3 linked regions of the Homo sapiens genome follow. The protein of the gene in region 3 purifies or fractionates together with the protein of the main gene of each other region. This does not show direct contact. Each region holds a gene or a part of one and is shown on either strand. Other genes may lie near its edges.

Evidence for each region.
Region 1: the proteins of NCOA5 (region 3) and WRAP73 purify together in Homo sapiens (co-immunoprecipitation; one study listed by IntAct). This does not show direct contact.
Region 2: the proteins of NCOA5 (region 3) and AMZ2 purify together in Homo sapiens (affinity purification with mass spectrometry, with the first as the bait; one large-scale study listed by BioGRID). This does not show direct contact.

The regions. Positions count from the first base shown.
Region 1 is NC_000001.11:3,643,598-3,647,252, forward strand, and holds part of WRAP73 (WD repeat-containing protein WRAP73), read right to left. Parts: intron 3,186-3,655; coding exon 3,069-3,185; intron 1-3,068.
Region 2 is NC_000017.11:68,251,026-68,254,486, forward strand, and holds part of AMZ2 (archaemetzincin-2), read left to right. Parts: intron 1-24; coding exon 25-153; exon of another isoform or gene 154-362; intron 363-3,378; coding exon 3,379-3,461. UniProt on the Homo sapiens protein: Probable zinc metalloprotease.
Region 3 is NC_000020.11:46,060,399-46,063,289, reverse strand, and holds the end of NCOA5 (nuclear receptor coactivator 5), read left to right. Parts: intron 1-400; coding exon 401-990; 3' UTR 991-2,299; downstream 2,300-2,891. UniProt on the Homo sapiens protein: Nuclear receptor coregulator that can have both coactivator and corepressor functions.

The sequences.
Region 1 (3,655 bases), on a different chromosome or scaffold from region 3:
GGGGACCCAGCGGCCCCGCTGAGCCCCGGACATGGGGTCGCGCCTTCGGAAGGGGACCCAGCGGCCCCGCTGAGCCCCGGACATGGGGTCGCGCCTTCGGAAGGGGACCCAGCGGCCCCGCTGAGCCCCGGACATGGGGTCGCGCCTTCGGAAGGGGACCCAGCGGCCCCGCTGAGCCCCGGACATGGGGTCGCGCCTTCGGAAGGGGACCCAGCGGCCCCGCTGAGCCCCGGACATGGGGTCGCGCCTTCGGAAGGGGACCCAGCGGCCCCGCTGAGCCCCGGACATGGGGTCGCGCCTTCGGAAGGGGACCCAGCGGCCCCGCTGAGCCCCGGACATGGGGTCGCGCCTTCGGAAGGGGACCCAGCGGCCCCGCTGAGCCCCGGACATGGGGTCGCGCCTTCGGAAGGGGACCCAGCGGCCCCGCTGAGCCCCGGACATGGGGTCGCGCCTTCGGAAGGGGACCCAGCGGCCCCGCTGAGCCCCGGACATGGGGTCGCGCCTTCGGAAGGGGACCCAGCGGCCCCGCTGAGCCCCGGACATGGGGTCGCGCCTTCGGAAGGGGACCCAGCGGCCCCGCTGAGCCCCGGACATGGGGTCGCGCCTTCGGAAGGGGACCCAGCGGCCCCGCTGAGCCCCGGACATGGGGTCGCGCCTTCGGAAGGGGACCCAGCGGCCCCGCTGAGCCCCGGACATGGGGTCGCGCCTTCGGAAGGGGACCCAGCGGCCCCGCTGAGCCCCGGACATGGGGTCGCGCCTTCGGAAGGGGATCCAGTGGCCCCGCTGAGCCCCGGACATGGGGTCGCGCCTTCAGAAGGGGACCTAGTGGCCCCGCTAATCCTCGAACGGGTCTGGTCCTTGCTCTTGTGAATGAGACTGATGGACGGTGCCCGCAGCTCACTTCCTGGCCAGCACGTCTGGAATTCCGGTTTTGTTTCCTCACTTGCAACCATTAAAGTTCGCATGCAAAGCTGGAGACACATTTTGACATCTTGGTCAAGATGCCCCATGCCTTGAGGTTACCGGTCCTCATCCACCACCTGGTCTTAACGTTTCCTCTAAGGCCACCAGCAAAGTGGTCATGACCTTAGTCTTAGGTTGAACAATGTCATCTAAATGTACTCTATGAAAAATCAGTTTGTTCTGTAGCAAAGGTGTTTTCAATATTGGTGTGTGTGACATGGGATGCTCAACAAAACCAGGCTTTTATCCATCTTTTAAGGTTTCTAAACTCTATAGATGGTAGTTTTCCTTCTGGGCCATTTAATAAGATAATACAACAAGGCTGACCCCATGACATGAGCCCTTCTCAAGGGCAGATTTGGGCCCAAAGCATTACAGGCCTGAAGACTGTTAGACACGGCTGCGTGAAAAGCTCAAATTATCCTCTCTGAAACACTCAGGCCGAAAGTGCCTTCCAATGTCAATACATAGTGCGGAGACATTGGTGGGCCTTTGTTTCCTGTCTTATTCTCTGACAGCCCATAATAGCAGACATTAGATTTGGAGTATTTTTTAAAATCGAAACTGAAAAATATGTAAAGCCATCCAGCCATCTGAAGCAGTTGATTCAGCAACCCTCATGGCTGGATAAAACTTTATCCCAGCCGATGCCAGCTTGAAAAAAGCCGAATGAAACCCTACAGAGCATCTGCAGCCACACGCTGGGAGAAATCCTCCCAGGTGCCATCATCTACGTGGTGTGCGCGGCGCAGCGGGACGGGAGGGCTGCAGTGTGGTGTGAGCGGCGCAGCGGGATGGGCGGGTTGCCCCGTGGTGTGCGTGGCGCAGCGGGACGGGCGGGTTGCCCCGTGGTGTGCGCGGCGCAGCGGGACGGGCGGGTTGCCCCGTGGTGTGCGCCGTGCAGCGGGACGGGCGGGTTGCCCCGTGGTGTGCGCGGCGCAGCGGGATGGGCGGGTTGCCCCGTGGTGTGCGCGGCGCAGCGGGATGGGCGGGTTACCGAGGTGCAGCCAGCAGCCCAGACAGCTATGAGCACTCAGTGGACTTGGGCCCAAACACTGGGATCCAACTCCATCAGAAAAGCACATTATTAAAGGAATTCGTCCATTTTTCTGTATCTTAAAAAGACACTGCGGACACCAAAGACCTGGTATCTAAACACTTGACATATGCCTAATTTTAACTTAAAATGCAGTCTCCTATCCCAGATCCCTCTGATTTATTCTCGGATGTCAACATTCCCCTCCGCGCTGAGCTCAGCACGGAGGCTGTTGTGCGGTACCTACAGCAGGTGAATGGGCGGCTGCCGACCGCCCCGAGCCACGCCCCCAGGCCAGGCTCCTGAAGGAAAGGTGCGAGCCGGCTCATATCACAGCGCATTTTCTATCGTTGAATTAAAGGGAGTGCCGAAATCCTAAAAAATCTAAATTAAGATTTTTAAAATGTTTTTTCTTCAAAACTGGACAAAAGATCAGACAATAATACTTAGTGGCTTATAATGCTCTGACCTAAAATATACACACCACTATATACGCTCCCCGGCTCCCTCCAACCCCGCCAATCTACCAGCCACTCGGGAGCCACCTCAGTCATCAGACCCAGGGCAGCAGACAGTGCCTGTGTTCACGACACCCTTATCTGACTCAGTAGCAGCCCAAAGCACGGGCGGTGGGGCTCGCAATCTGGATACGCCAAAGAGAAGCCACAAAGTGCTTCCTTTAAATGACGAGCTGAAAGTTCTTGACGCAACAAGGAAAGAAAAAATCCTATGCTGAGGTTGTTGCTCAGATCTTCAGTAAGACCAAATCTTCTATCCATGCAATTATAAACAGTATATTGTTATCCTTGTTCTATACTATGATTGTTGCTAATCTCTTACTGTATCTAATTTATAAATTAAATGTATCACAGGTATGCTGTATAGGAAAAAACACAGGAAATACAGGGTTTGGTACAATCTGAATCCCCTGGTGGTCTTAGAATGCATCCCCTGAGGATAAGGGGAGACTAGCATACTCCAAACACACCCCCTCTCGCACTCCCCAGCTGTTTCGAGAGCAGAGGACAGGATCACATGGCCAGTAAGGTGTCTTGGGGCTGACACTTACATGGAATTCCGTGGTGTTGAGAATGTGGCGCCCGTCCGGGCTCCAGCACGAGGCCACCAGCCCGGCTGAGCCCTCGTCTATTTTGCAGTGCCATTCGGGCTGCTCTAAAGACCAGACCTGGATTGAGAGAAGAAAGAAACACACAAGTGCAAACTCATCAGCACCGAGAGACAGCGAGGACAGCTCGCTTAAACGCAGCGGAGACCCGACCGCACAGGGTGTCTTCAAACTCATCAGCAGTCTATAGCGAGGCCTCGCCGAGAGACAACTCCCTTAAAACCAGCAGAGACCCGATCACACAGGGTGTCTTTTAGAACCTTTCATGATGAAGGGCTGGTGCTGGATTCCAGTGTAAAAGTAAGCCACGCTTCTTGGTGATTTCATTTCGTTGTTGTTTTAAAACTGTTTATTCACATTGTCATTCCTAAGACCTCATTTAGTTAAGCTTTGGACACAGAAGAAAACACGACTTCTTAGGACTTCCTGAAACACACCACATCCGCGTGGCTAGATTGCTGTCAACACCTCCGTTTCTCAACTATATTGCTTAGAAATTAAGACTACGTTGGAGTTTCCTTAGTTTAAAT
Region 2 (3,461 bases), on a different chromosome or scaffold from region 3:
ATTTATGTATTTCTTTTTAAATAGGGGACATCCTGAAGTTCTTGAAAAAGAAGAAACCTGAAGATGCCTTCTGTGTTGTGGGAATAACAATGATTGATCTTTACCCAAGAGACTCGTGGAATTTTGTCTTTGGACAGGCCTCTTTGACAGATGGTATTCCGTTTTTGGCATTGTTGTTAGAAGCTTCTTCAGCTTGAGAATATTTGAAGATGTTAGAAGAGGGAAAAAATTCCAACCAAGAATCATATTGATATTTAAAATATTTTCAGTTGAGACATTATGCCATAATGGGAAGTGTGCTGTTGGTAGATTGTGATAATCTAGGTTCTGGTTGGCCACTCACTACCTACAGGACCTTAAAGGTAACAATACCCACATCATGGAGTCATTTGGAGATAATTTACATAAAAGTGCCTGTACATAAAAAGTGTGGATAAGCCTGGACAACATAGACCACATGTCTACAAAAAAATAAAAATTTAAAAAACTAAATTAGCTGGGCATGGTGGCACATACCTGTAGTCCTAGCTACGCAGGAGGCTGAGGTGAGAGGATTGCTTGAGCCCAGGAGGTTGAGGCTGCAGTGAGCCATGATCGAGCCACTGCACTCCAGCCTGGGCAATAAAGTGAGACCGTGTCTCAAAAAAAAAATGTATATATAGGCCTGGCATATATATAGGCATACAGCATAACAGCTAGTAAATGTCAGTAATTCAGTAGCAAGGTGAATTAAACCAATTACAGTTTGAGCTATCAATGGATGTGAAAATCTTGCTAATTATTTTTCAATTCTTTTCATAGTCATCTTGCACAGTTAGAATAGCCATAGACTAAGTGTATGCTTCTTTCTCATCATACGACATTTGTTTTTTAATTTAAAGAGTCAAAACGTCCATCTTTGATTTGAGATATGTAATAAACCTTGACTCATTAGGAACTCTGTATGGTAATATTAGGGATGGGAAAGGTTCTGCAAACCGGTCATATTTTTAACCTTTTTTTTTTTTTGTCATCTCTCTACTTCTCCCCTCCCCTTAATTATTGTTCTTATTTCTCTAACTTCATCCCTAAGAATCCAACACAGACTTGAAAGGGAAAAGGCCCCCTAAGGGGAGTGGTTCATTAGTGTTCTGGGGATGGGGAGTAAGTACAGGGACTATCCTGAGAGTTTATGGTCTGTCTGGATGTTACATTAGCCTTAGGATTTGTGTGGGGTGGTAAGCTTTTTGGGACAAATGTTTCTACTAGAGGTGGGGGCTGTAGGGTTATAGAGCCTCTTCCCACTTACTCCTTTATTCTTTATTCTCCATTTATGTGAGGTTTCTTGTGGCCCCCATGGCCCTACCAGCATGCACTCTTGGAGACGTGGGTCACTACTTTCTTACTGATTTTGGTGGTGTGAGGTAGCTTTTTATCATAAGTTTTCTCTTTTATTATTAACCTGATAGAGATGGAAACATTGAAAAATAATTCTATCTACCTTTTATTTTTCTTTTGAGACAGAGTCTCCCTCTGTCACCCAGGCTGGAGTGCAGTGGTGTGATCATGGCTCACTGCAACCTCAACCTCCTGGGCTAAAGGGATCATCCTGCCTCAGCCTCCCGAGTAGCTGGGACCACAGGACCACCACACCCGGCTATTTTATTTTATTTTATTTTTGGCCAGATGGGATTTTTTTTGGCCAGATGGGATCTCCCTGTGTTGGTCAAGCTCATCTTGAAGTCCTGGGCTCAAGCGAGCCTCCCATCTCAGCCTCCCAAAGTGCTTTGATTACAGGTGTGAGTCACCACACCCAGCTAAAAAAATAATTTTAAAACCATATGTTCGTTTATCTAGATATTGCTAGCTAACTTATCTTATGTGTTTGAGGAGGTCAGGAAACATTTCCCCAAACTGTATTTACTTTAATTCTTTTTTTGGTAAGTTTCTTAAATATTACATGACATAAAAGATTTACATAGGAAAGTAGCAGGATTAGACAGTGACAATATCTTAACACAGTGGTCTTGTTTTCTCCGAGTTTACAAAGATTGATATTTTTAAAGTGAGACGCATTGACTACGAAAAAAATAGTCTATTTGTAGGATTATTGGAAGAAGGAAATGTCCTTGCTGAAAGTAGTGAAATATGCTCACACTTGATTGGCCAGAGGGGGTTACTTGTGATAAAGGAATAGATTTAGTGTGCTCTTAATTTCCAGAATGCTATCTTTGCTTAATTTTCAAATATCAGTCTACATTTTCTGGGTAAAGGGAGGTGAGGAAGTTTGTTTTTGAATCAAATTAGATTGGACAAATCTACTATGGGTTTATTACTTTAAAAACTGAACGAGAGACATAAATAAAAGTGATCATGTAAACAAGTCGAATTATGAAGCAGTACCCTGTAGGGTGAGTTATGTAGCAAACCGTGTTCTCTGTGCTTGCAGAGATGGTTGATATAACTCTAAATGTAACACAGGAAGTCAGTTACAAGGGTATTTATTCTGGTCACCAGACACTAGTGACAGAATAGAGTTGAGCTGTTCTTTGAAAAGGGGGTAGGGTTGGGGAAGGGGACGAGGTTATTCTGTCAAAAGCCGTGGTTTAAAGCATGGGCTTCAAGACATCAGGGGCAGTTGTCCTCAGTCAGTGCTGCGTGAGGGAAGGCCAGCAACCCCTCCAGACACACGTGTAACAGATCTGTTTAGTGTGTCCTTAAATAGTGAAATCATGACTTCCTATTGTTCATGTGATTTTTTTTTTTTTGAGACTGAGTATCACTCTATCGTCAGGCTGGAGTGCAATGGTGCGATCTTGGCTCACTGCAACTCCGCCTCATGGGTTCAAGCCATTCTCCCGCCTCAGCCTCCCTAGTAGCTGGGATTACAGGCACCTACCATCATGCCTGGCTAATTTTTTTTAGAGACAGGGTTTCACCATGTTAGCCAGGCTGGTCTTGAGCTTCTGACATCAGGTGATCCACCTGCCTCGGCCTCCCAAAGTCCTAGGATTACAATCGTGAGCCACCACGCCCAACCCATGTGGTTATTTTTTATGATTCCTTTTTGAGTACTTGATTTGGAGTACTTGCTACTTTCAGAAAAAGACTTCTTTTGTGGGAAAAGACTCTCTGAAACTTCAGTTTCTCAAGCATTTGACCTCAAGTCCATTAAGTTTTACAAGGCAAGGCAAAGTGGATAGCAGCAAAAGATTTTGATAGGGAAATCTGGGGCAAAAGTCTTCCTTTTTGGTGGCAAACCATAAGTGTATCAGATGGTGTGGACACAGTGACACAGAGATGCACTCACTGGCCAGATGGGCCAGCAGTCTCTTCTTTCTTTGGTCTTTCTTCAGGGACCTTACTCTCATTCTGTCACTGTTTGTCCTTTTTTTGTAGGTGTGGGGATATTCAGCTTTGCCAGGTATGGCAGTGATTTTTATAGCATGCACTATAAAGGCAAAGTGAAGAAGCTCAAGAAA
Region 3 (2,891 bases):
GGGTGTCAGGCCCAGGGCTCTTTGGAGTGGGTAAGGGAACTAAGTCCATCCCTTGGGTTCTCCCGTGGGCCACCCATGCTGATATAATGTTAATAATAACTTTATATTTGGGTACTGAATGCTGATCCCTATAGTTAATGTGGTGGATTGACTAGTATTGCTGGCTCCGTGGTAGCCAGGATGGATGCCCTTTTGTTTTTTAGCAGTTCTCTAGGGGAACTAGCCTATTGTTTTCTGTAAACAGCACATATCATGAAGCGGCCTCTTTGGGAAATTGATGTTATCGTCTGTGTACTGTATGATTGATGTGACTCAGTGATTGTTGTTCTTCCTTTGGCTGCTAGGCCTCCTGCCCTTGGGGGGTACTTTGAACCAGATACCTCCCTCTTCTGTCTTCCAGGCCCGATTTCCCGCCAACCACTCGGGGCGACCTCGGGTGCCTCGCTGAAGACACAGCCAAGCTCCCAACCGCTCCAGAGCGGCCAAGTGCTCCCCTCTGCTACACCCACTCCATCTGCACCCCCCACCTCCCAGCAAGAGCTTCAGGCCAAAATCCTCAGCCTCTTCAATAGTGGCACAGTGACGGCCAATAGCAGCTCTGCATCCCCCTCGGTTGCTGCCGGAAACACCCCAAACCAGAATTTTTCCACAGCAGCAAACAGCCAGCCTCAACAAAGATCACAGGCTTCTGGCAATCAGCCTCCAAGCATTTTGGGACAGGGAGGATCTGCTCAGAACATGGGCCCCAGACCTGGGGCTCCTTCCCAAGGGCTTTTTGGCCAGCCTTCCAGTCGCCTGGCACCTGCTAGCAACATGACTAGCCAGAGGCCTGTGTCTTCCACAGGTATCAACTTTGACAATCCAAGTGTACAGAAGGCTCTGGATACCCTGATCCAGAGTGGCCCTGCTCTCTCCCACCTGGTTAGCCAGACCACAGCACAGATGGGGCAGCCACAGGCCCCCATGGGATCTTACCAGAGGCATTACTGAAGCTAAATCTTTCAACTCTCCCCAGTCCCCTCATCCCCTGGCCTCCTCCCACTTACTTGTTCTAAATAGAGCTGTTTGGAGGATGTTCTCTGCGCTCCCAGGCCGGCATCGAGTGTCATCAATTTCTACCACCTGCTCTCTCTTCTGCCCAAGGCTGTGTTGCTTATTCCTTACAAAGTTTATACTGCATTTGGGGCTGTATCTTTTTTTGTTTTTTGTTTTGTAGAAAATAAATATCTCCGGGGGCAGTACAGGTGTCTGGGCTTGTATTTGATGGGGTTTCTCCGGTCCCTGTTTCTACTGGATTTGGAGCCAGGCCCAGCTAGCCAAGTTTGGAATGGCATTTGTCATGTCAGTAGCCACCACCTTTGTTCATTGTGAACCTACCAAGGCTTTCCAGCTTCATACACATTGACCAGAGCTCAAGCTCCTGCCTGCAACTCCTGCCTAGAGTTGAAGAAAAGCAAACTGGCCTTGGCAGGCACAGTGTCATCATACCCTCACCCCATATGTTTGGGGTCTGCTTGAGGATTCATAAATCAGCCACTCTGGATTGTTGAGGAATGGCCATGGCAGCCACAGAAAAAAGAATTTTTCTCTCTGAGCCAAGGTTGTTTTTTGTTTTTTTCTCTTTTCTTTTTTGTTTTCATTTCATTGGAAGATCTCCAATGGACTGAACAGCTCCAGTCAGCAGCAGTTACCACAAACTGTGAATCTGGGCCCCACCACTCTTCCCTGTTAACCAGTTCTGTCAGCATCCCCCTCTCCAGCAGCACTTCCATGAAGTTGGTTCTGAGACTCTGGCCGTGAACACCCGTTTCTTCAGTGATTTGTTTTGGGCTTTTGGCTCAAAACCCCAGGCTCTTGTTTTTGTCTAGACTCTTATTCTGTTTCCTGAGCAGCAGGAGGTAGGGACCACTTTGATGTCAGACTTCTGGTAGCTGGACATGTTCTCGAGATGGGTGGCTGTTCGCGACTTTTGTACCAGAGTGAAATTGTTAGAAGGAGGGTTTCTGGCTGTGGTTCTAAATGGAGCCCCAGGAAGCTGCCCTCTCCCCAGGGTTTGTGCTCAGTAGAGCCCTGTGGATCACAGTCTTGAGGTCCTCTAGCAGGGGTGAGGGAGAGCAGCGACTTCAGCTGAGTCCCTGCCAGTGGTTAAGCAAACAATGGTTTCAAAATTCAAGGTCCCCAAATGGCAGCATTTTATGTTCTGACCTGTTTGTGTTATATAGTGGTTTTTTTTTTCCTCTTTGGAACTCTTGTGTTGTTAATAAAATGAAATGATTACTTTTTAATTAAAATGAAAAAAGTAAAAGCTTTGTTCATCTTTTTTGGGTGTGAATATGCTCTTTGCAGGATGCTTTCCCCAAGTCAGAGGTGAGGGCTCCTGTCTCGAGGACTCTGGTCTGCCCCCTTTTGTCCTCAGCATATGATCCGGCCTCAAACCTCTTTGAACCCTGCCTTCTCTTCATAGGTAGCTCACTTAGAGGCTTTAATAACAGTTCAGAGCAAAGGCCTGTTGGCTAATTATAGTGCTGTGTTCAACATCCTGCTTCTGGTAGACATTCATTGTGTCAGCAGCCTTGTCCTCTTATTCTAGGAAAGGAAAACAGGATGTGAGGAGGCCATTTGTGGTTAATGGCCATTGGTAGGGGGGCACTTCCTGTTTTCATTTTGTCTCAGTTGCCACCCTCTGTTCTACCCATTGTGCAGGGAGTTGGCAGAATTCATAGAACCTGAAGGAGCCTTGAAGAGCATTTAATAACTTGGGGTGGGTGTGGTGAAGTGGGTGGCACAGGCCTCCAGTGAGTTAGGGACCAACGTGCCAAGAGCACTGAGCCTCACCAGTTAAGTGTTCACTGCCTCCTGGGGGTATCAGTGCAGCCTGACACCTACACTTA